Regions from separate parts of the Homo sapiens genome. Here all the other regions are linked to region 1. The links come from fine-mapping of genetic effects on gene expression. A gene starts in region 1. Each other region holds a variant in brackets. All regions are shown on one strand. Distances are between the middles of the regions. Region 1 holds the start of PANK2 (pantothenate kinase 2). Region 2 overlaps RNF24 (ring finger protein 24). Region 3 overlaps RNF24 (ring finger protein 24). Region 4 overlaps PANK2 (pantothenate kinase 2). Region 5 overlaps PANK2 (pantothenate kinase 2).

Region 1 (5,104 bases):
TCATTCCTTTAGAATCTGGCTAGTTTCTCTGAAGCTCTATGCTTACCATTCTTGTACTTATTCTGGTGTATACAACCAGAAAGTTGGCTTCTCTCTAGGGGTAAATAACCGGAGAGTGATAAAGAACTTAGTTCTCACTATAATAACCACAGAGAAAGGATGCCTCTTGTTAGGTTCATTTTACTTTTTTTTTTTTTTTTGAGACGAGTCTTGCTCTGTCACCCAGGCTGGAGTGCAGTGGCGTGACCTTGGCTCACTGCAAGCTCTGCCTCCCAGGTTCATGCCATTCTCCTGCCTCAGCCTCCCGAGTAGCTGGGACTACAGGTGCCTGCCACCATGCCTGGCTAATTTTTTGTATTTTTAGTAGAGATGGGATTTCACCGTGTTAGCCAGGATGGTCTCGACCTCCTGACCTCGTGATCTGCCCACCTCGGCCTCCCAACGTGCTGGGATTACAGGCGTGAGCCACCGCGCCTGGCCTCATTTTTTTTGAAAAAAAATAAAAAATAAAAAATAAAAAAATCTAAGCTTAATCATAGATTTACCTTACTCTGCTCCAAGGCAATTTTTCAACTTTTTAAAAAATAAATGTTTTCTTTCAGTATAATACCCAAAAAAGTGCACAAAATGTCTTGATAACATATTACAAAGGGAACACACCCATGTAACCCCCACCCAGATCAAAGAAACAGAATATCATTAGCCATCTAGAAGCCCATTTGGTCATCTTCATTTTCTTTTTTTTTTTTTTTTTGAGGCAGAGTCCCACTCTGTTGCCCAGGCTGGAGTGCAGTGGTGCAATCTCAGCTCACTGCAACCTCTGCATCCCAGGTTCAAGCAGTTCTTCTGCCTCAGCTTCTGGAGTAAGTGGGATTACAGGCACGCACCACTACGCCCAGCTAAGTTTTGTATTTTTAGTAGAGACAGGGTTTCACCATGTTGGGCCAGGCTGGTCTGAAACTCCTGACCTCCAGTGATCCGCCCGCCTCAGCCTCCCAAAGTGCTTGGATTACAGGCATGAGCCACTGTGCCTGGCCTAATTTTTTTTATTTTTTATTTTTTGTAGAAGTGGTCTCGAACTTGTGGTGTGCCTTCTTATTTATTTATTCATTTTTTTTTAGAGACGGAGTCTCACTGTCTCCCAGGCTGGAGTGCAGTGGCACGATCTCGGCTCACTGCAACCTCCGCCTACCGGATTCAAGTGACTCTCCTGCCTCAGCCTCCCAAGTAGCTGGGATTACAGGTGCCCACCACCACGCCCAACTAATTTTTGTGTTTGTTTTTTTTAGTAGAGACGGGGTTTCCCTGTGTTGGCCAGGCTGGTCTCGGACTCCTGACCTTGTGATTCGCACGCCTCGGCCTCCCAAAGTGCTGGGATTACAGGAGTTGAGCCACTGCGCCCGGCCGCTTTCTTTTGGTTATCATAAGGCGGGCAGTAGCTGAACTTCTCAGGAGTCCAAGCTCTGTCATTCTTTAGGCTTTGTGCTTCTGGATAAGTTACCTCATCATCCAAATGTTACTGCAAGGACTAAGTGAGATGTAGAGGCAGTGGGCAAATTGTGTAAAAATACTACTGTTTCAAGTGTTTTGATGTTGGAGTTCATCTTGCCAGCCAAGGGATGATGATACTTTGATTCTTCAGGATGATCAGAGCTCAGACTTGGACGGAAGCTCCCTCAGGTCAAGGAGGACCACATTTTTTGGGGGGTGGAGAGAGGAGGCAGAAAGAGAGGCAATGTCAGGCACTGAGATTTAGAAGAGTAGCTATAGCTGTTTTTGGTTCTTGTAGATCCGTCTGTGTTGGCTTCCTACAGGAGCTAGAATTTTCAGAGCTAGTCCTACAGTGAGGGGAGCTAACGTGGAGTGGGCGTGAGAATTCTATTCAGCAAGCACAAGCGAAGCTCAACCTTTTTGTTCAGCCTGCTACAACCAATCATTATGGGAGAGGGGAATAAGGATCACTGCCCAAGGGGCATTAGGATCACTGCCCAGTGGGCATTACAGTCTCCCCAGGGAGGCACTCTTTTTTATTTTTTATTTTTTTTGAGACGGAGTTTCGCTCTTGTTGCACAATGTTGGGTCACTGCAGCCTCCGCCACCCGGGTTCAAGCAATTTTCCTGCCTCAGCTTCCCAAGTAGCTGGGATTATAGGCATGGGCCACCACGCCCCGCTAATACGGAGGCACTTTTAATTAGCCCACAGTCCAGTGAAATTTGACGGAGTGAGGAAGTGACCTCAGAGTACAGAACGGGATGGGATCCTTCCGGGCTTGGGCAGCCTTTGGTAGTGGGGATGCTTGGAAGGGTCAGGGTCTCAGTCCTGGAGGTGACCAATTTTTCTCTCCAAAAGAGAAAGGAAGATGATTAAAAAAAAAATCCATGCTCCAAAGCGGCAGCCAAATCCTTCTATGGCCCCCAATGCATCACCCAGAAAGGGGCTCCAGACTCTCCTGCAAAAGGCCAACTCTACTTCCCGGCTCCCACTTCCCCTCCTTCGCCACAGGAGGGTGGCGAAGGATTTATAACCCACCTCTTTCTTTCAGTTGCCATGGAGACAAGCCCCAGTCCTTTCATTCCTTCTGGTACCTCTCTCTCCAACGCAGGCGGAAAGGAGGCGGCTTAGCCCAAACATGCTGGGGGAGGGGCTGGCGGCCTCGACGGCAGCTGCGGAACTAGGCCGAGGGACAAAGGCTAAGGTCAGCCGCGGTTCAAGCCCTTTCGTCTGCCGACGACCAGCGGCCAGACGCTGCGGGAGCACTGCTGGGCTGGAGGAGGGCTCGAGCTGCGAGGACGGCACGGAGCAGCGGGGTGGGACTCGGGGTCGCCCCAGGAGAGTTCCGCGGCCCGGGGGGGCAGAGGCATGCACAAGTGGGGGGCGGAAGGAGGGGGTGGATGAGGAGGCTCGGGCCCTTCCACCCACGCGTCCATTGGGCGGCGCCGCCATCACTCTCTTCTGGGCTACACCGCCTTCTCTTCCTCCGCGGAACCCGGATCCCCTCCTCCACCACCCTCTCCCCGCCCCGTCACGATAGCCTCTCATTGGACGGAGGCACGGTCAATCCTCCTCGAGTTAGGGAGCCGACTGGACGCGAGGCCTTTGGGCCGTCCCCAGCCTCGTCGGATTGGCTTCCTGCGCGTTGGCGCAACGGAAGAGGCGGCCGGCCGAGGGCGCGCCTCTGCTCTGGCTGGACTGCCGCGGAGGAGGCGAGAAGGAATCCGACGCTGGGGGGCTTGCTCGGGCGGCAGCGACTGCTGCTGCGGATGGGAGGGGGCCGGCTCGGCGCGCCCATGGAGCGCCACGGCAGGGCTTCCGCCACCTCCGTCTCGTCGGCTGGGGAGCAGGCGGCCGGGGACCCCGAAGGGCGGCGGCAGGAGCCACTGCGGCGCCGGGCGAGCAGCGCGTCGGTGCCCGCGGTCGGGGCCTCGGCTGAGGGCACGAGGCGGGATCGACTGGGCTCTTACAGCGGCCCCACCTCGGTCTCCCGCCAGCGCGTCGAAAGCCTGAGGAAAAAGCGGCCGCGTAAGTGTTCCGTGGGGCGCCCTCCCGGCCCGCCCTGCCCCCCCTTCCGGCCCACCCTGTCCCCTTCCGGCCCCGCCGCCGTTTTTCCCGCGCGCGGACACTGTCCCCGCACGGTGGTCCCTCGTTGGTGCGTGGCCTGACATCCGGCTGGAGGCCTCGGGTGCTCCGAAAGCGGTACCTTCGGGGGCCCCCCCGCACCCATTGGTATGCACTTCCCGCTTGTTGGAGTGGAGGGCTTTTCCCCAGGACCTGTCCTCCCTTTTCTTAGCTCCTTGGGCATTCTCTTCCTGAGGGTCACATGATTTTATCCTCGAGAAGGCTTCTTTTGACTCATTTCCACCTCCTTTCCTCCCAAATCCTTTGAATCCCCAATGTTTGTTTTCCGTGGGTTTCCAAAGAGCTGCTCTCTAATACTTTAAGTCCCTTTTATTCGTCAATTTCGGGCTTACTGGAAAATGGTGAACTGCCCCTTGAGTTGCACCAGGCCTGAAACTGTATTCCGTGCACCTCTAAGGTGGCTGCCCTTCTTCTCGTGAGAATCCAGGTCATCTCTCACCCACATATCCCCTCCGTTTTCCTTCTGTCTATTTGCAGGTACTCACGATTCAGAACTGTGGCATTCTGGGCATTAAGGCTCTTTGTTTTGAGGGGAAACAACATCTTTCTGAATTTTGCCTTGGGAGTTGCATACGCTCCTCCCAGAGAATCCGTTTCCCCATTTTATTAGGTTTCTTTTTCTGTGTTGTGTATTTTCTCCCCTTTACAAGTCTTCAATTCAGGACCGCTGCCTGGCAGCCATTGCTGCTGTTGAAAGTATCAATTGTCCTGATACTGTAATATGAGCTTTACAGTGTGATGCCATTTTACATATGGTTGGACTTTTTGGTGGGTGTTGCCAGATTCCTATTTCAGGAAATTGACTTGTTTAAATGCAGATTGTGAGAGGGAGGGAAAATGGCAAGATGTGAGATTTTTATTGAATAGTCTTCTACCTTAGCCCAGTCACCCAACTGCTTTTTTGAATCTTCTCTGATATGGATGATTAAATGTAGTTCTATTTTGCTGTGAAAAGTTTGGGAGTTTTCAGTTCTTTTGTCTTTTTCCATCTTCTTGCAACAGATTTGGAAAACAGATTCTTAACCTGTGCCATTTTCAGAGTCAGTCACCTAGTTTTGTTTTATTTGAGAAGCACCTGAGTTTGAAGCAATGCAAAATATGAGATCCTTCATGGTTTTGTATTACATCGTTGGAAATGGATGTAAATTCCAAAGATTCAGCAAATAAGAGTATAGCCATTAGCCACAAGGGTTTTTTTGGTTTGTTTTTTGTTTTTTACTTTGAGACAGCGTCTTGTTCTGTTGCCCAGGCTGAAGTGCAGTGGCATGATCATGGCTCATTGTGGCCTTAACCTCCTGGGCTCAAGCCATCCTCCTGCTTCAACCTCCTGCATTGCTGGGACTAAAGGCACGTGCCACTATGCCAGGCTAATTTTTCAATTTTTATTTTTTTAAATAGAGATGGGATCTCTTATGTTGCCCAGGCTGGTCTTGAATTCCTCCTGGTCTCAAGCGATCTTCCCACTTC
Region 2 (5,104 bases), 110 kb after region 1:
GGCTTGTAATCCCAGCACTTTGGGAGGCCAAGGCGGGCGGATCACAAGGTCAGGAGTTCGAGAGCAACCTGACCAACAAGGTGAAACCCCGTCTCTACTAAAAATACAAAAATTAGGCTGGGCGTTGTGGCTCACGCCTGTAATCCCAGCACTTTGGGAGGCCAAGGTGGGTGGATCACCTGAGGTCACGAGTTTGAGACCAGCCTGACCAGTATGGTGAAACCCCGTCTCTACTAAAAATACAAAAATTAGCCAGGCATGGTGGGACATGCCCGTAGTCCCAGCTACTTGGGAGGCTGAGGCTGGAGAATCACTTGAACCCGAGAGGTGGAGGTTGCAGTGAGCCGAGATTGCAACACTGCACGCCAGCCTGGGCAACAGAGCGAGACTCTATCTCAAAAAAAAAAAAAAAAAAAAAAAAAAAAAAAATTAGCCGGGCGTGGTGGCGTGTGCCTGTAATCCCAGCTACTCAGGAGTCTAAGGCAGGAGAATTGCTTGAACCCAGGAGGCGGTGGTTGCAGTGAGCCAAGATCACGCCATTGTACTCTAGCCTGGGTGACAGAGCGAGATTCCGTCTCAAAAAATAAAATTAAATTAAAAAAAATAAATAATGTAACACGTGACTGGGTGTGGTGGCTCACACCTGTAATCCCAGGACTTTGGGGGTCAAGGCGGGTGGATCATCTGAGGTCAGGAGGTCAAGACCAGCATGGTCATCATGGCAAAACCCCATCTCTACTAAAAATACAAAAATTAGCCGGGCGTGGTGGTGTGCACCTGTAACCCCAGCTACTCAGGAGGCTGAGGCAGAAGAACCGTTTGAACCCGCAAGGTGGGGGTTGCAGTGAGCCAAGATCAGGCCACTGCACTCAGGCCTGGGTGACAGAGCAAGACTCTGTCTCAAAAAACAAAACAAAACAAAAAACAAAAATGTAGCATGTAACCATAGATATCATATAAGAATGTCTGAGTTATGCAGGATAGTCAGCTGGAAAATTAGTTACAAGAGAACAGCAAATAAAAGTGAGAGTGTTGCAACAGTTTTAGTTACAACAGTCCTATAGAGTTGCACATTATTATCCTTTGTACTGAAAGATTCACTAACAACCATGACATTATTCATATATACAAATGCAGCTAAAAGGAATGATGGGACATGAATCTTTTCCACATTCTACACTAGAACACCATTCTTAGGTCTATAGCTACAGTAACCGTTTATAGGGCTTTTCTCGTCATTTGTGACTGAAGACTCATGAAACACTAGTCAATTTTCTTTGTTTAAAAAAAGTCACGGCCGGGTGCAGTGGCTCACGCCTGTAATTCCAGCACATTGGGAGGCCGAGGCGGGCGGATCAGCTGAGGTCAGGAGTTTGAGACCAGCATGGCCAACATGGAGAAACCCCATCTCTACCAAAAATACAAAATTAGCTGGGCGTGGTGGCGCATGCCTGTAATCCCAGCTACTCAGGAGGCTGAGGCAGGAGAATCACTTGAACCCAGGAGGCGGAGGTTGCAGTGAGCCGAGATCATGCCATTGTACTCCTGCATGGGCAACGAGAGGCGAAACTCTGTCTCAAAACAAAACAAAACAAACAAACAAACAAAAAAAGTCACTTCATCTTTTCTTCCTTCAGGATAAGTCAGTATATCTCTAAGAGCCTTAAGATAAAAAAGAACATGGATGAACCTTGAAAACATCATATTAAGTGAAAAAAGCCAGTCATAAAGGATACATTTTTAAAATCCTATTTATATAAGAGGCCCAGAATAAGCAAATCTATAGAAATAGAAAGTAGATTGGTAGTTGCTTAGAGCAAGGGAAGGGGGAGGAGCGGGGAGAATGAGGGGACTGAGGAGCGAAGGCCATTCTTTTTGGAATAATGATAACTAAAATGTTCTAAAATTGATTGTGGTGATAGACAGAAAACTCTAATATTCTAAAAGCCACTGAATTGTACACTTTGAGCAAACTATATGGGATATAAATTATGTCTCAATAAAGCTGTTAAAAAAAGGCAAAAGAGAATTGCCTAAAACAATCATCAAAAA[C/T]GGTATTTTAATGGCCAGATGTGGTGGCTCAAGCCTGTGATCCCAGCACTTTGGGAGGCCGAGGTGGGTGGGTCACCTGAGGTCAGGAGTTTGAAACCAGCCTGGCCAACATGGTGAAACCCTGTCTCTACTAAAGATACAAAAAATTAGCCAGGTGTGGTGGCGCATGCCTGTAATCCCAGCTACTTGGGAGGCTGAGGCAGGAAAATTGCTTGAACCTGGGAGGTGGAGGCTGCAGTGAGCTGAGATGAAGCCATTGCACTCCAGCCTGGGCAACAAGAGTGAAACTCTGTCTCAAAAAAAAAAATTATATTAATGCATATATAATCTCCTTAAAAGTTAAGAACTATGTAGTACAGTTAGGCAGTTACAATTTTTACATCATCTGACATCCACCGAAATGGAACTTCTGACCAGCCACAGTTCAGCAGCCAGGCTAAGCTGGCTGCATAACTGAACTCATATTTATAAAAAGAGGGGAACTGAGATGTAGCAAAAATTGTTTGTTGTTATTCCTTGCTTAATAACAATAATCATTAGGAGAGCTAAGGAGATAAACTACACTCACAATAACTGGAATATTCAATGATAATTATCCCCATTTTGAGGCTAAATAGTGATTCACCAAGGCCAAATAGGTAACAAATAATAGGGTCAAAACTTACTTGAATCCCACACGCTTTTCTGTATATCACCCTGCTTCTTTTTTACCTTTATGGAAATTTACTTGGAACTTACTATGCAAAAATATATGTGGCCAGGCGCAGTGGCTCATGCCTGTAATCCTAGCACTTTGGGAGGCCGAGGCAGGCAGGTTACCTGAGCTCAGGAGTTCGAGACCAGCCTGGGCAACACAGTGAAACCCTGTCTCTACTAAAATACAAAAAATTAGCCGGGCGTGGTGGCGTGCACCTGTAGTCCCAGCTACTTGGGAGTCTGAGGCAGGATAATTGCTTGAACCCGGGAGGCAGAGGTTGCAGCGAGCTGAGATCATGCCACTGCACTCCAGCCCAGGTGACAGAGTGAGACTCCATCTCAAAAACAAACAAACAAACAAAAAACCTCATGAAGAGCCAGTTTTTTTCAAATTACAGGAACTTTTAAGTCAGATCATATGTAAAATGCCTGAAAAAATATTAAAATGATATCAGATCTAATAAACTCAGAAGTGAACTAAAACAATAAAATGTAGTGGGGTTATTCATCAAGTGCTTCTTACCACAAATGTAGCTTTCTGTAAATTCAGGCTGAATATGAGGCACATAAAATAGTTATTGATATGAATAAAGGTAAGATTGTAAATCCAAAACACATATTGGATGAAATAATTGAAATATTACTTAAAAGACAAAAATCACCCTTATTTCTGGTAGAGGAAAGAAAGCAGAATGTGTAAGATTTGTGGTCACCAAAGAACAAAGTTTCAGGCCAGCATGGTGAATCACGCCCGTAGCCCAGCACTTTGGCAGGCCAAGGTGGAAGGATCGCTTGAACCTAGGAGTTCAAGACCAGCCTAGGCAAGAGAGTAAGACCTCATCTCTATAAAACTTAAAAAAAATTAATAAATAAACAGCTGGGCATGGTGACATGTGCCTGTAGTCCCAGCTACTCAGAAGGCTGAGGTGGAGAGATTGCTTGAGCCTGGAAGTTGAGGCTGTGGTAAGCTAAGATTGCACCACTGCACTCTAGCCTGGGCGACAGTGAGACCCTGCCTCTTAAAAAAACAAACAAAAAAAAACAGGGCCGGGCGCGGTGGCTGACACCCATAATCCCACCACTTTGGGAGGCCGAGGCAGGCAGATCAGGAGGTCAGGAGATCGAGACTAGCCTGGGCCACATCATGAAACCCCATCTCTACCAAAAATACAAAAATTAGCCGGGCGTGGTGGCTCATGCCTGTAATCCCAGCACTTTGGGAGGCCGAGGTGGGTGGATCACGAGGTCAGGAGATCGAGACCATCTTGGCTAACACAGTGAAACCCCGTCTCTACTAAAAATATAAAAAAATTAGCCCGGCGTGGTGGTGGGCGCCTGTAGTCCCAGCTACTCTGGAGGCTGAGGCAGGAGAATGGCGTGAACCCAGGAGGCGGAGCTTGCAGTGAGCCAAGATGGTGCCACTGCACTCCAGCCTGGGCAACAGAGCAAGACTCCGTCTCAAAAACAAACAAAAAACAAAAAAACAAAACAAAACAAAACCTCAGCAAAGAAAGGTAAAAGATAAAGGATAAATGAAACAAATGTGGCAAAACCTTGTTAATTGTTGAATCCCACTGATAGGCACAGGGCCATAATAAAAAAATTTAAAAGAAGAACCTCACTAGCAGAAAAGTCTGAAAAAATAGTGTAGGTAAGTCTATTAAGTAATATTAATCTCAGGTAGAAAACAAAAGGATCAATGAAAAAAGTCATGGCAGTTGATTATTTAGAAACAGAATAAATTATATGGAAAATATCATTTTTTCCTCAGATATGACCAGACAGCTATATAATATAGTTTCCTGAAGTAGGTTATTTCACTGGAAATCAACAGTAGATAAAATACAGTTTTTATATAATACATTTTTAAAAAAAACTTTAGGAATGCAGCTGTCCATTTACTCCCCTTAGAACTGTGTCACGCTTTTATATAATTCTGGTGTTCTAAATGGATGGTGGTAGTGAATTGAAATAGAGAAAATGAAGACACAGAAAACAGAAGTCACAGCTGCATTCTGAACTGAATGCTTTGAATTTTTCTTTTTCTTTTCTTTTTTCTTTTCTGAGACAGTCTCACTCTGTCACCCAAGCTGGGGTGCAGTGGCGCGATCTCAGAACACTGCAACCTCTGCCGCCCGGGTTCAAGTGATTCTCCTGCCTCAGCCTTCTGAGTAGCTGGGATTATAGGCGCCTGCCACGGCGCCCGGCTAATTTTTTTGTATTTTTGTAGAGACAGGGTTTCACCATCTGGGACAGGCTGGTCTTGAACTCCTGATCTCGTGATCTACCCACCTCGGCCTACCAAAGTGCTGGGATTACAGGCGTGAACCACCACGCCCGGCCCAGAATTTTTCTT
Region 3 (5,104 bases), 120 kb after region 1:
CATTTCTTAACACAAGGAATCGGTGAATGTGACTTTATTTGAACCGACTTTATTTAAGAAAAAAAAAAGGGTCTTTGCAGATATAATTTAAGGATCTGGAGATGAGAGCATTTTGGATTATCTGAATGGATTCTAGATCCAATGGCAAGTGTCTTTATAAGAGAGAAAGAGAAGACCATATGAAGACAGAAGCAGAGACTAGAATGTGTGGAATCACCAAAACCTGGAGGAGGCAAGGAAGGATTCCCCTCTAGAGTCTTTGGAGGGAGCACAGCAACCCTGCTGACACCTTGATTTTGGACTTCTACCTCCAGAACTGTGAAAGAACAACTTTCTGTTGTTTAAAGCCACGAAGTTTATAGTAATTGTGTTACAGCAATGTTAAGAAACTAATAAACCCCCTTTGCTCCATCTGATTCTGACAAGTCATTTTTATTTACTGCAGTAGCTCTGCAGGAGCATCAGAAGAGATTTAAAAAATATAGATTCTGCCCCCTACCCCAAATCTCTTCTTATTCTCCTGCTATTATCTGCAAAGATCTCTGCACTTCCATTATCAATAGCCCTCCAGAGGTGCCAGTACAGGATAACATCTGAATAGTAAAGAGACTGTATTCTTGTGAAAAGTTGATAACATCCACTGTGACAGGTGGTGGGCTCTAGAGGATGAAGGCCTAGGTTCAAAACTGGACCCTGAACTTGTAAACCTGAACAGGTTACTTCTTTGACATTTAGTTTGTCATCCATAAACAACTCTTTGAGGATTGCTGTAAGCAGTAAATAGGCAATATATTTAAAGCTACTGGCATAAAAGCTTTTTAGTGTAGGTTAACCAATATGAAAGATGATTTTCTGAGTATAATATTGCCCCTGGCTATTGATATACTGTTCTGTGATTTAAGAAAAAAAAAATCTTACTACGCCGAAAATTCCATCTGCCCTGTTTACAGAGATAATCGACAAGTTTGAGTAAAAGCCTTTATTTAATTATAGCCATGCATGAGATTTCCAACACATTTCTGAAGAAGTTTTGCAACTTGTTTCATGCTGAAGAAAATGAATGAAAGCCTACACCTTTGATTTCCCTTCCCACCCATTTCCCACAAACTACATTAACTCATAATTTGACGTTTCATTATCTGTCAACTTTTTTCATTCAGTCCAAGATAAAGAGACTATTTAGATATAATATTTAGGTTCTATTTCAAATTTATATCACTGAGCATAATTTCACATGCTCAGATTTGGGAAGGAACAATAAAGAGATACAGGTAGCTATAATTTTTTTTTGGTTTGCCAAGATGAACTTAATAAACTTAACAGATACTGCAGCACCATTCAATCTGCACATTTGAAAAAAAAATTAAGGCAACATAAAGCATACTGATAGACAGCAGTGAAACTATTAATTTTGAGAATTCAATAAACACTGTCATCAAATGAACTGAATGCTCATTATTCTTACAGTATGATATTTGCACTTATTTTGCTGTCAATTAAACAATTATGATATTAAATCTGCTAAAGGAAGTGAAGAACTGTATCTGATACAAGCACCTGTCTAATCGGGAAAACATAAGTACCATCAAAATGAGAGACAAGCTAAGACTACATACATAATTAACCTTCTATAGAATCTATGGTTTATGGCTAGGTGTGGTGGCTCACATTTGTAATCCCCGCACTCTAGGAGGCTGAGGCGGGTAGAACACCTGAGGTCAAGACCAGCCTGGCCAACATGGTGAAACCCTGTCTCTACTAAAAATACAAAAATTAGCTGAGTGTGGTGGCGCATGCCTGTAATCCTAGCTACTTGGGAGGCTGAGGCAGAAGAATCGCTTGAACCCAGGAGGCAGAGGTTGCGGTGAGCAGAAAGAGCACCACTGCACTCCAGCCTGGGTGACAGAGCAAGTCTCTGTCTCAAAAAAAAAAAAAAGTCTATGGTTTACACAGGAGCAAGCTTTACAACAAGATGGAAAAATTTTCCTAATTCAAATGATCAAAACTTTAGAAGATGACAACAAAAGGAACGGGCAAACCTCACTTTAAGAAAAGTTGACAAATAAAAACAGGAACTTTAAAAGCAGGTAACCTGGAAGTTACTTACAATATAAAAACATTCACTACAGTTCATTGCAACTTTAATACACCTAACAGTAGTGAATCCATAAAA[A/T]TTCAAATTACATTAAATTTCCAGAGCAAATTTGTAACACGAGGTTCACTTGTAACATTATCTAAATAGCAGTTTCCTTTCCCTTGCCACTGCAGGCTTTCTCCAACTCCCTGGGGTACTATGGAGGGCCAGTGCAACTCTCTGGTATCAGACTATCCTTAGGGCACATGGAGGGCCCAGGCCAGCTTTCCCAAGAGTGGCCAGCCAAAAGCAAGGCCACTGGCCAGCTATTCTTGGGCCAGCTGGCATGGAACAAAGTGTCTGGTTCCTACCTCCAAAGCACAGGAGGCTCTGCCAGCTGGCTTTCAAAGGACTGCACTAGTTGGAATGCTCACAGTTCCTTTCAAACCATCTGGCATTCTTTTAGAACCCTCAATTTACCCAACACTACATTCTGAGATTTGAATTGCTCAGATAATTGAAGGAGTCCCCACTACCTACCTAGGTAAGAAAAGAAAGAGGCAGAGCAAACGCTAAGTCAATTACTTCAAGAAACAGTTTCTACAACTAAAAACTGCTCTCAAGTTTAGCTTGTATATTTTGTATTTTAAAATCTAAAATATTCCCATGATTATTAAGCAAACTTTCAAAGTAAAAACCAAGACAAGTAATAAGAGAATAAGCTAAAACAGACTATTTAACATGCAGAAAAGCTGTAGGAATCCCTTAGGGTTAGAAGTACCTGACTCTCCCTAGCCTGAACTTCTACAGAGCCTGTCTGTATTTTTTATGTGGTCCTCAGAATATACTTCGTACTGCTACATATATTTACCCTCCCAGCTAGCTAGTAGATGAAAAGAACATTGTCTTATAGCTGTTTCAAAAGAAAAAAAAATCTGTTGATGATATATTGGGTGTTTTTAAAGCTCCATTTCCAGAAATAAGAAAACTTAATGTGGAATAACATGAAGAAAGAACCTCACCTCTGAGAAAACCAAATAAACAAAGAACAGGACTTGGCTTGAAATAAAAATATTTTATCAAGTGATCAAAATGATTTATTGGCTGGGCATGGTGGCTCCTGCCTGTAATCCTAGCACTTTGGGAGGTGCTGGTAGGGTCACTTGAGCCCAGGAGTTTGAGACCAGCCTGGGCAACATAGTGAGACCCTGTCTCTACAAAAAAAAAAAAAAAAAAAGAAAAAAAATTAGCCTGGCATGCTGGTGTGTGCCTGTGGTCGCAGCTACTTGGGAGGTTGAGGTGGGAGGATTGTTTGAGCCCTGGAGGTTAAGGCTGCAGTGAGTTGGAGATCACACCACTGCACTGCAGCCTGGGCGACAGAACAAGACTCTCTCTCTTAAAAACAAACACACCCCCGCCCCCCACAAAACCAAGAACAGCTGAATCATCATATTGATAGCCCATATACCCTAGGAGATATAGTATTTTGAACAAAAATATTATAGAGACCAAGTCAGAGTCAAATATTATAAACTGGAGGAGGCTATAATAATTACTATTATTTTTCATTGAGTTTACTCCCAAGACGAGTACTGAGTTTCGTGTTTTACATATTATCTCATTTGGAACACAAAACAAACACATGAGGTAGGAACTATTATTAACCACATTACAAATGAAGAAAGAGAGAGGTTAGGAAACCTGCTGGAGGTCACATAGCAAAAAGTGAAAGAGCTGGAATTCAACTCCAAGCAGTCTGATGCCAGAGTCCAGGTGCAAGACTGCAAATATATATATATATTATATATATAATATATATATTATACATGTAATATGTATAATATATATATTATATATATAATATATATATTATATATGTAATATGTATAATATATATATTATATATAATATATAATATGTATAATATATATAATATATAATATATAATATGTATAATATATAATATAATATAATATATATATTATACATATTATATATTATATATATATTATTTATATATATTATATATATATATATTTTTTTTTGAGACAGAGTCTCGCTCTGTCACCCAGGCTGGAGTGCAATGGCACAATCTTGGCTCACTGCAACCTCCACCTCCCAGGTTCAAGCAATTCTCTGTCTCAGCCTCCCGAGTAACTGGGATTACAGGCACCCGCCACCACACCCGGCTAATTTGTTGTATTTTTAGTAAGATGGGGTTTCACCATCTTGGCCAGGCTGGTCTTGAACTCCTGACCTCATGATCCACCCGCCTTGACCTCCCAAAGTGCTGGGATTACAGGCATAAGCCACCATGCCCGGCCCAAGACTGCCAATATTAAGTCATACTTATGAAAGAATGAAATGTAACATAGGGCAAAATTTGATCATTAATATATTCTTCATAATTGTTTCAATTCTTAAGTGTAGCAAAAAATGGTGAGTAATTAAAAAACATGGATTCTCTTGTTAGAAATTTTTAAAAATCAAAAGCTATTTTACCAGGTCAGTTGTGCCTCTTTTGCCCATGTACTGAGTAGACACTTGTGCCACCTGCTGTCCTAGGGGACAGAGTGGTAAACAGGACAGATGAGGTCCTTGCCTTCCTGGAGCTGACCTTCTATTAGGGGTAAGTCACACAAAAATTATTAAACAACAGAATTTCAGAGGGTGGTACGTACTATAGAGGAGGTAGGGAAGGCACGTAAACTTCTCTTTTGAGAGACTTAACCATGTAGGTAAATAGAAAGGGATAGAGGAGGGTCAGGGAAAAGTTGTTTGCTGAAGCTTATTCTGATTTTAAAGATGGGCAACGTCACGGCATATGTGTATGCTGACATGGATAGCCCCCTGGAGAGTTGCTGATGATGCAAGAGAGAGGGCAAAAATGCTAAAGCTGTGAGATATGAGGGGGCATGAGGTATAGAAGATGTGAGGAGGAACACAGTAGAAAGGGGAGCTTGCCTCCGACAGGAGACAGAAAACATGGGTCTAAGGAAGGCAGATTTCTACATTTGGTTGGGGGGAAGA
Region 4 (5,104 bases), 22 kb after region 1:
TTGCTCCTTTAGTATGAAAAATTAGGGCATCTGCTATACGTTGAGGAAGAAACTACCTAAAAGGAACATCATTAGATCATGAACAATGAGATTGAAATATAATTAAAATCATTTCATGTCATAAAATTGTTTTCAGTCTTGTCTACCACATAATTTCTCTTGTCTCCCTCAGTTGTTTGCTGGCATGTTCACTAACTGAAAAAAATAAGGAACTCTGGTCAAAAGTGGTGTTTTCAGGCTCAGGGCTGGTCTGAGATGGGTGACTGCAGAGCCCTCCTCTCCCAGAATGCTTTCTGATGTGTTCTGTGCTGCACACTTAACTGGAGTCTCGCCACCATGTCTGGCCCCTGGGGAATGCTGCCAGGCGCTCTATCTTGCTTTCATTGAGTGAACACTGGAGAACATTGTGAGCAAGACCTTGAGGCTAGGTCCTTTCAGGGTGGATGGTGGGGGTAGGCCGGAGAACTGACAAATGAATAAGCCAAGATCCTGACCGTCAGGGTGCAATACAGATTGAAAATGTCTTCAGTGACTGACTGTTTTTCTGTTGCTAAATGAGAGAATATTAGTCTGAAAGAGATTCTGCCTTTTTGTTTTGTTTTGTTTTCTTGAGATGGAGTTTTGTTCTTGTTCCCAGGCTGGAATGCAATGGCTCAACACAACCTCCACCTCTCGGGTTCAAGCGATTCTCCTGCTTCAGCCTCCCAAGTAGCTGGGATTACAGGCATGTGCCACCACGCCCGGCTAATTTTGTATTTTTAGTAGAGACAGGGTTTCTCCATGTTGGTCAGGCTGGTCTCGAACTCCTGATCTCAGGTGATCTGCCTGCTTCAGCCTCCCAAAGTGCTGGGATTACAGGGGTGAGTCACCTTGCCCGGCCCAGATTCTGCCTGTTATTCTGCATGTCTTTTAGTAGAGATGGGGTTTCACCATGTTGTCCAGGCTGGTCTGGAACACCTGACCTCAAGTGATCTGCCTGCCTCGGCCTCCCAAAGTGTTGGAATTACAGGTGTGAGCCACCGTTCCTGGCCTCAACTTTTTGACTAACATGCCTTGGAGTTCTTCCCACTTCAGAACATAAAGATCCTCTTCATTTTTGTTTTGTTTTGAGACGGAGTCTCGCCCTGTCACCTAGGTTGGAGTGCAGTGGTGCCATCTCAGCTCACTGCAACCTCTGCCTCCTGGGTTCAAGAGATTCTCCTGCCTCAGCCTCCCGAGTAGCTGGGTTTACAGGCGTGCACCACCATACCCAGCTAATTTTTTTTTTTATCTTTAGTAGAGACTGGGTTTCACCATGTTGGCCAGGCTGATCTTGAACTCCTGACCTTGTGATCCACCTGTCTCAGCCTCCCAAAGTGCTGGGATTATAGGCGTGAGCCACCGTGCCCGGCCGATCCTCTTCATTTTTAGTTGCTATACAGTGCTCCATAATACGAATAATAATTTAGTCATTCCTTTATTATTTAAATGGAATTAATTGATTATGAAACAGTTCAAATTTTGACTGCTAAAATTCCCCTCCCTCCCAAGAGGCTGTAGCTAGTTTAGATAGTGAAAAAAATCTTACCTTCTAACTGGATACTTTCAGCCTTTTGGCTTCAGTTTGTTAAATAATGTGTGGCCTCTTTTGATACTGCTCCAAAGCCTTGAGATGGTCCTCTGTCACAGTCCTTGTGGCTCCCACCCTGTGTCACAAGGTGGTTTCTGATAGTGCTGTGGCCTGAGCTTGGTATCAGCCCCATTGTCCCTGTAAGCAGAGATCTGAATTTCTGTTTGAAGGTTGATAAATGCTGTGGTTTTTTTTTTTTGTTTTTTTTGTTTTTTTTTTGGTCACACTTATTCAGCTGCTGCAGTAGTTTCTATGTAGAGTGTATTTGGGTCTGTAGTAGCAGGAGTCTGTCTCAGCACTGTGTCCCTAGGTTTGCTCCTAAATCTGTTCTGTAAAGCATGCACAAATAATACACATCTGTGAGTGCACTTTCATGGTTGTTTCACGTAGTGGGGATGCCTTATTGAATGGAATTTTTGTTTCTGTTGGCTTATTAAAAAGTCTGAGTACATTCTTATTTCATTACAGATAGGTGATCTTCAGCTTTGCAAACTGGATGAACTAGATTGCTTGATCAAAGGAATTTTATACATTGACTCAGTCGGATTCAATGGACGGTCACAGTGCTATTACTTTGAAAACCCTGCTGATTCTGAAAAGTGTCAGAAGTTACCATTTGATTTGAAAAATCCGTATCCTCTGCTTCTGGTGAACATTGGCTCAGGGGTTAGCATCTTAGCAGTATATTCCAAAGATAATTACAAACGGGTCACAGGTACTAGGTAAGTTGTATATAAAACTCACTGTTTATTCTTAGTATCCTAACGGGCTGAGTTTTCAGGTATTACATGTAACTACACCTTCAAGAACCTGTTAGGTGAAAGTGTTTCTGGATTATGCAAACAAATGTTTCTCTTTGAAAATTCTGATTTTATGACCTAGTTTTCTTTAATCTCTACTGTTCAAGATTTATTATCCTAGGTGTTTCTTAAAAGATCACATCAGCAGACTCATTGTAGCCTTTGCCCTCAGATAGTTTATGGTGTGCATACACAAAGTAGCTAAAGTTATTAGGCAGCATCTGTAAGGAGAAGGCACGGGAAAGGACCTAGCTCTGAAACCTGTGTAAATTTCATGCTTCCACACACA[T/C]GTGTGTGTAGAATAATGATGTATTCTATGTATGTGATTTAGAAGTTGATATGTACTGATCAGTAGAAAAATTATTGAGGGAAGGTAGTATGAAAAGAGAGGATTAGCCGGGCGTGGTGGCTCATGCCTGTAATCCCAGCACTTTGGGAGGCTGGGGCGGGTGGATCATGAGGTCAGGAGTTCAAGACCAGCCTGGCCAACATGGTGAAACCCCATCTCTACTAAAAATACAAAAATTAGCCGGGCGCAGTGGCAGGCGCCTGTGAATCCCAGCTACTCGGGAGGCTGAGGTGGGAGAATTGCTTGAATTCAGAGGGTGGAGGTTGCAGTAAGCCGAGATTATGCCACTGCACTCCAGCCTGGGTGACAGAGTGAGACTCCGTCTCAAAAAAAAAAGAAAAGAGAGTATTAGGGCCAGGCACGGCAGCTTATGCCTGTAATCCCAGCACTTTGGGAGGCCGAGGCGGGTGGATCACCAGAGGTCGGGAGTTCGAGACCAGCCTGGCCAACATGGAGAAACCCCATCTCTACTAAAAATACAAAATTAGCCGGGCGTGGTGGCACATGCCTGTAATCCCATATACTTGGGAGGCTGAGGCAGAAAAATCACTTGAACCAGGAGGCAAAGGTTGCGGTGAGCCGAGATCGTGCCATTGTACTCTAGCCTGGGCAAAAAGAGCTAAACTCCATCTCAAAAAAAAAAAATGAGGATTAGATGGAAGAAGAGAATGTTTCGGCTTAAGGGTCAGAGGTCACTTCAGGAAAAACAGGCATCTAGGGATTGGGATAAACAATTTTTTTAAAAAAACAGTTGTGATTTAAATAGAGGAGTAATTTTTTTGTGACAAAACACGTTGCAGGAGGAGTATGTTTGGGGGTGTACTGATAAGCCAGGGTGACAAGGTGCTTGGATGAGAATGACTCAGGGAATGTACTTGGAGAAGGGAAAGGGAGGAGGTGTTAGCATGGCCCCAGGCGTGTCAGGCTAATTTGCACCTGAGGCTCTTCATACTTGGCAGACAGCCAGACTGCACTGGGGACATGGGCCCTGTGTTTTGTACTTTGCATGTTGGCTCACATGCATATGTACCTTAAAGGTGTATATCAGGCACCTTATCTTTTCACAGACTTGTTTCCTACCAGTGGCATTTGCATGATTGGGTTGGATATGTGAATATGGTTTTGGGGTTCATAAATGTTAACTTCTTGTTCTTATTTTTAAAAATGTTATAATACTGTGTTAATTGTTTTTAATCATAGTCTTGGAGGAGGAACTTTTTTTGGTCTCTGCTGTCTTCTTACTGGCTGTACCACTTTTGAAGAAGCTCTTGAAATGGCATCTCGTGGAGATAGCACCAAAGTGGATAAACTAGTACGAGATATTTATGGAGGGGACTATGAGAGGTTTGGACTGCCAGGCTGGGCTGTGGCTTCAAGGTAAGGGGGCATGTGTGTTCTAAGAAATACAGGCGGGCCGGGCGCGGTGGCTCATGCCTTTAATCCCAAAACTTTGAGAGGCCGAGATGGGCAGATCATGAGGTCAGGAGTTTGAGACCAGCCTGGCCAACATAGTGTAACCCTGTCTCTACTAAAAATACAAAAATTAGCTAGGCATGGTGGTGCGCGCCTGTAGACCCAGGTACTTGGGAGGCTGAGGCAGGAGAATCACTTGAACCCTGGAGGTGGAGGGTGCGGTGAGCTCCAGCCTAGGTAACGGAGTGAGACTCTGTCTCAAAAAAAAAAAAAAAAAAAAAAAAGACATAAAATAATAATATTGGGCATATTTTTTAAAAAAGCTCTATTGAGATATAATTTACGTACTATAAAGTCAGCTGTTTGAAGCGTACAATTTAGTGGTTTCTAGTATATTTACAGGATTGTGCAACCATCACTGTAATCCCAATTTTAGGACATTTTTATCATCCTAGAAAGAAACCTTGTGTTCATTAGCTACGACTCTCCATTCCCCCCACAGCCCCTGCCAAACAGTAATTTATTTTCAATGTAGGTTTGCCTCTTCTGAACATTTCATATAAGTGGTATCATACAGTATATGATCTTTTGTGATTACTTCTTCATATAGCATATGTTTTCAAACATTCACATTACAGTGTGAATCAGTACTTTATTCCTTTTTATTGCCAAATAATATTTCTTTTTTCTGAGACGGCGTTTTACTCTTTTTGCCCAGGCTGGAGTGCAATGGCGTGATCTCGGCTCACCACAACCCCCACCTCCCAGGTTCAAGCAATTCTCCTGCCTCAGCCTCCTGAGTAGCTGGGATTACAGGCATGCGCCACCAAGCCTGGCTAATTTTGTATTTTTTAGTAGGGAAAGGATTTCTCCATGTTGGCCGGGCAGGTCTCGAACTCAGGTGATCTGCCGCCTCAGCCTCCCAAAGTGCTA
Region 5 (5,104 bases), 37 kb after region 1:
TCCCGTGATCATTACCTGGGGAGGGGTTCCTGAAACCTTCCACAATGGGATCTGTGGACTTTCATTTTTTTAAGAGACTTACTCAATTTCATGACTGTACTACCTGAAACAAAGTGAGAAAGGACAGGTGTATTTTTCTAAGTCATCAAGATAAATCCTTAAGAATTCAGTCTAAATTAGCAACCAGGAAGGAAAAATATATTAAAAACAACAAAAAAGTGGCACATGTCCAGGCAGTGTGAGGATTTGCTGTATATAAGTTGCCTGCTTTGTATTTTTGAAATCTCTGCATCACTCATTGGAAGTGCTTCTGAAGAGAGCTGCTCTGTGTTCAGTTGACTGGTTTTGTGTCCTGTTTGAACTTGCTGAATGTAAGGCAGGCTACTATGCGTTATAATCTAATCACAATTTGTCAATATGGTCTTGGCAATCATCTGTGCATTACTCTGGTTTGCATTAAGCCTGTGTGTGAACTTACTGTAAAACATGTTTTATTTCAAGGTTCTGCAAAATTAATTGGGCAGGTTAATTGTGTACCTGAAACTTAACAAGCAGTTTTTGGAAGGGCAGTTCCACGTTACTTTACACTAAATCCTGGGAATGAATGTCTGGAGAGACAGGGCTTCTTTTCTTGGCAGAATTTCCTTGGGTAGTGGGCGGACTGTTCTGATGCAAGTGGGTACACTGGCAGAAGCAGCACAATCTGGAGGACTAACATGAGTCAGCAGGGCCACTAGAATTGACACCCCCTCAGGGGATCAGGGAGAATCTGGTTTTTCTTTCAGGCTAAGTAGAAAAGGAAGAACTGAAGTGTCTGTCAAAGAACTCATGGGGAGTGGGGGGTCCTTCAGGGCACTGTGGCACTTGGGAGGTGAGTCTCAGAAGACTGCCTGAGGAGAGTGCCAGGCTGCAGGTGCTCTTGGTAGGGGCTGAAGCTTTTCTTTCTGCTTTGCAGAATAATTTCAAAAGCCTTTCCCAAGGAGAGAATGCACCTTTTATATCTGAGGTCTTAAGTGGTGCCCATATTGCTGTTGAAGGCAAGGATGGGCCTGTACAAAGCAGCCTTGGACCAGGAGGGAAAACCCCAAGGCTCTGCAGCCTCCCTGCTCCCCTCCGTTTAAGGCTGTGGTCAGGGAGGGATGGGCAGGGTGCCAGCCGCATGGAGGCAGCAGAGACACCCGTGTTCCAGCTGGGGCAAGGGGAACTGATATGTGGGCTGTGGGCTGTTCCACTAGGCGTGGCCACCTCTGCACATGGGCCTTGGCACTTAGGAAATATGGGTGCTGCTGCATTGGGACCTTGTGTGGGTGCAGAGCAGGATGGCTGCTGCGTGGAGGGTAATTTTGTCCCCTGGAGAGTGATTGGTGACCCTCTTCCCTGCTGCTGCTGTTTGCAGGCTCCTGGCCTATACTACCTCTGACGCCCTGATCCTGAGTTCCTCTGCCCTCCTCTGCTGCCAGCAGCGCTGTTGGTGGCCTCACCCTCCTCCAGTACCCAGGCACCAAAGATGGCACCACCATCCTCCTGCTTGTACCACAGGGTGCTGCTCCCTGGGCCAACTCCTGTGAACTTGCTCACTTCCCATGGAGACCGAGGCCAGGGCCTGCCCCTCTGAGGCCCCTGTTTTGTGGTCCTGCTGCCTCTGCTGTGCTGCGTTCAGGAGGTTGTCCACTGCTCGACGTGGGTCACCATGCAGCCCTTGCTGTTCCCACAATTTAACAGAAAAGGAAACTGAACGGATGAGTAAGGCTGCCCAGGGTCACTCAGCTGGAAAAGAGTAGAGCTGGACTCAAACCCGGGACTGTCTGTCTCTGGTGCCTGAGTTGGGAAGACGCTGTTGATGTCCCCTTCTGCCTCGCTTTGAGCTTCCTCCTCCGTGGGCCCTCCCCCTACTCTAGAGAAACTAGTCCATTCCCTCATGTTCCACCTTGTGCTCAGTAAACCCTGTCACTCCACAGCAGGGTTTTTGAGACAGTCTCGCTGTGTCACCCAGGTGGAGTGCAGTGGGGCGATCTCAGCTCACTGCAACCTCTGCCTTCCAGGCTCAAGCAATTCTCCTGCCTTAGCCTCCTGCGTAGCTGAGACTACAGGCATGTGCCACCATGGCTGGCTAATTTTTATATTTTTAGTAGAGATGGGGTTTC[A/G]CCATGATGGCCAGGCTGGTCTCGAACTCCAGACCCCAGGTGATCCGCCTGCCTTGGCCTCCCAAAGTGCTGGGAATACAGGTGTGAGCCCCTGCGCCCGGCTCACAGCAGGGTTCTTGATAGGCCACCAGTGAATCCCATGCCACCGAATCTGGCATTCATTTCACAGCCTCATCTCAGTTCTCACTCAGCAGAGCCCTCTTGCCTGTCCTGCCACCCAGGCTACTAATGTTCTGGTTCATTCTCTGCTGACAGTTAGCTGTGGCTGTCCTCAGCCTCAGTCCTGGGTCTCCCCAAGCAGTCATTAGCATCACCTTGACTGATTTCCAGGGAACACTTCAACCACCCCTTACCTCTGAGCTCCAGCCCCGAGACACTGCCTTCTCTCTGCATTTGTTGATCTCTGTGCAGCAGTGCCCACATCCTCATCCCAGCTTACTGCCGTCTCACCACCTTCAGGTTGTGAGGTGCCCATAAACTCTGCTGTTACCATTGCCACTTCCCTGTCTTAGCAGCTGTCCCTTTCAGTCTGCCCTCCACTAGTGGCCATGAAGGGGGCTGTGACCGTGGTCCAGGTGAGAAAGGAAGGCCTGAACTAAGATGGGAGGTGGGTGGCCAGAATGGAGAGGGGAGAAGTGGATGGCCAGAATGGAGAGATGCTTAGAGGGCTGTGTTGGGAAGTGGTGACTGGATACAGGGGAGGGAGGAGAGATACAAGAGGGCACCTGGGCTCATTTGTGGACTACGTGATTTTGAGACTCCAAATAAGCACTGGGTATTTGGGTTGGAGATACAGAGCTGAGAATGATATGCATGTAGGTGGGCAAAGCAAGGGGGATTTCATGAGTTCTAAGGTAGGGTGAGAAAAATAACCGAGAGTTGAGCAGTGACGGAGGAAGCTGCAAAGAAAACGACTGCTCAGGGAGAGGCTGGCCAGGGGCCTGTGGCTCAGGGGACTGAGAAGAGGAGCTCTCTAGGCATCTGAATTGAGGTTGCCCACAATTGGTTGCAAGATCGTGGCTGGCCTTGATGGAAGCTGGGAAGCCACTCGGTCCTAGTGAGGGGTGGTGAGGAGAGCAGCAACGGCCACACAGGAAGGCTTTGGACGTTTTTTCTCCTGACACTAGTTATTTCCAGGCCTGGGATATAGCTAGGGGCTTGGGGTGGGGGCAACTCTTTGCAGGGTGGTGTGGCCTGTGGAGGAAACAGGCTCAGTTCCACTACTTTGGCCAGGTGCAATGGCTCATGCCTGTAATCCCAGCACTTTGGAAGGCCAAGGCGGGTGGATCACCTGAGGTCAGGAGTTCAAGACCAGCCTGGACAACATGGTGAAACCCCGTCTCTACTGAAAATACAAAAATAATTAGCCGGGAATGGTGGTGCGTGCCTGTAATCCCAGGTACTCGAGAGGCTGAGGCAGACAGTTGCTTGAACCTGGGAGGCAGAGGTTGCTGCAGTGAGCCGAGATTGCTGCACTGCACTCCAGCCTGGGTGACAGCAAGACTGTCTCAAAAAAAAAAAAAAAAAAAAATCCGCTATTTCAGGTCACCCTGGTGCTGGCGTTCACGTGGAAGACTGCTTATCTGTATCCAGCTGTTTGCAGAGCTCAGGGAGGCCAGGGGGCTTCAGACTCCACTGTACTCTGCATTCCAGGATTCTCTGTTCTCTGGCTGTGGTGGCCTGACACACTCTTCACCACTGACCCCACCCCCGCTTGCACACTATGCCACAGGAAGGGCAGGGGCTTCCATCACAATCACTCAGTACTAGTTACCAGCTCTGATAGAATTACTCACCTTGAGTTTCCAAGTCTTGCTGAAGGTGCTTGCGTAAGTGGCACATGGATGTTCCCTCTGTTCAAAGGCATATGCACAACACTATTTTTCAAAATTTGCTTTTATTTACACGTTTGAGTCAATTACATGCATGTTTTATTTTTGAGGAGTGATTAGCAAAATGCATTAAAATTTTAAAATAGCAATTAAATATACAAAAATATAGCTTACAAAAAACTGCGAATGTTTAAAAATATTCTGCTGCAGAATTTTTAGTGTACAAAGACGTCTATGAAACCTGAGGTTCAGCATTTCATAAACCTTTTTTTGAGGGAGTTACACAATACCTAGTGAGGAAACCCGAGGGCCAAACTACAAGACGAAAAAGTGCCCCGTTCCTGGCAATGATGTCAGAAGACCAAGAGGCGATAGTTACCAGCAACACTCTAGGAAGACCAGCTGTCACCAGAAGGGAGTTCCTAACACTTGCCACACCTGCTCCCCCGACCGGGGGCCTGGGAGGGAAGGGCAGATGGAGAGGAACGGTGTGCAGTGGGCGTGAGATGCAGATCCACCAGGCTTGGGACTGGCAAAGGGAGCTGAGAAGAGAGTTCCCCCAAAGCACAAACAAGTCTGCTGACACTGGTGGGGCCCTTACAGTCACAGAAGTAAGGACTGGATGGTAAGCCAAAGGTGCTGATGCTTGGTCAAAAAGTGGAGTACATCTTTGCATCTTGTAACAATTTGGGCTCTACAGCTGAATTGGCAAAGTAAGGTTTACTACACAAGCCCCTCTTTTTCTTCTGATATCCCCACTCAAATGGAAGCACACTCCCCAGCACATGGGGATCCCTTATTAATCTTTACTAAAGAACCGTGAACCAGCATTTTCCAGTTATCAACTGGATATTTAGGCATGAATCTGGACATGTCCATCTGCTTAAGAAATCTGCTTAAGAAATCTGTAACAGCTACAGGAAAAGACACACCCAGGGCCAGAGATTCTACAAATGCCAGAAGAGTGGATGTGATAGAGAATTTTTTCTCAAGTTTTGGGTTAGGGCACCAGTTGCAATTTTAATCCAGGGGAGGATCTGGGCTGCTGCTGTAGGGGGCAAGTACACCAGGGAGGTGGGTGTGGACAGAGGCACTGGGCAGCTGCTGGGAAGCGAGGCACAAGTCTGT

What was found. PIP is the estimated chance that this variant, and not a neighbour inherited with it, causes the effect.
Region 2: its variant is fine-mapped to the expression of PANK2 in whole blood (INTERVAL, PIP above 0.99).
Region 3: its variant is fine-mapped to the expression of PANK2 in whole blood (TOPMed, PIP 0.93).
Region 4: its variant is fine-mapped to the expression of PANK2 in whole blood (INTERVAL, PIP 0.98).
Region 5: its variant is fine-mapped to the expression of PANK2 in whole blood (TOPMed, PIP above 0.99).

Annotation. Positions count from the first base shown.
Region 1 is chr20:3,886,209-3,891,312 of GRCh38, forward strand. It overlaps PANK2 (pantothenate kinase 2), which reads left to right and starts at 3,179. Exons shown (of 7, transcript NM_001386393.1): 1 at 3,179-3,520. The coding sequence starts at 3,223. It overlaps PANK2-AS1 (PANK2 antisense RNA 1), which reads right to left and starts at 2,965. Exons shown (of 2, transcript XR_001754478.3): 1 at 2,531-2,965; 2 at 161-2,341. RefSeq lists an enhancer at 2,254-2,805 and silencers at 2,814-2,873, 3,064-3,563.
Region 2 is chr20:3,998,178-4,003,281 of GRCh38, forward strand. The region is part of intron 1 of RNF24 (ring finger protein 24); the gene reads right to left. Among named protein-coding and RNA genes, the nearest start is that of RNF24, 15 kb to the right of the region's middle. The variant C/T (reference allele first, on the strand shown) is at 2,053.
Region 3 is chr20:4,004,447-4,009,550 of GRCh38, forward strand. The region is part of intron 1 of RNF24 (ring finger protein 24); the gene reads right to left. Among named protein-coding and RNA genes, the nearest start is that of RNF24, 8.6 kb to the right of the region's middle. The variant A/T (reference allele first, on the strand shown) is at 2,174.
Region 4 is chr20:3,908,500-3,913,603 of GRCh38, forward strand. PANK2 (pantothenate kinase 2) reads left to right here. Exons shown (of 7, transcript NM_001386393.1): 3 at 2,078-2,331; 4 at 3,959-4,135. Among named protein-coding and RNA genes, the nearest start is that of MIR103A2, 6.4 kb to the right of the region's middle. The variant T/C (reference allele first, on the strand shown) is at 2,699.
Region 5 is chr20:3,923,287-3,928,390 of GRCh38, forward strand. It overlaps PANK2 (pantothenate kinase 2), which reads left to right. Exons shown (of 7, transcript NM_001386393.1): 7 at 1-5,104. The coding sequence ends at 8. RNF24 (ring finger protein 24) reads right to left here. Exons shown (of 6, transcript NM_001134337.3): 6 at 4,025-5,104. Among named protein-coding and RNA genes, the nearest start is that of MIR103B2, 8.3 kb to the left of the region's middle. RefSeq lists an enhancer at 2,750-2,919. The variant A/G (reference allele first, on the strand shown) is at 2,145.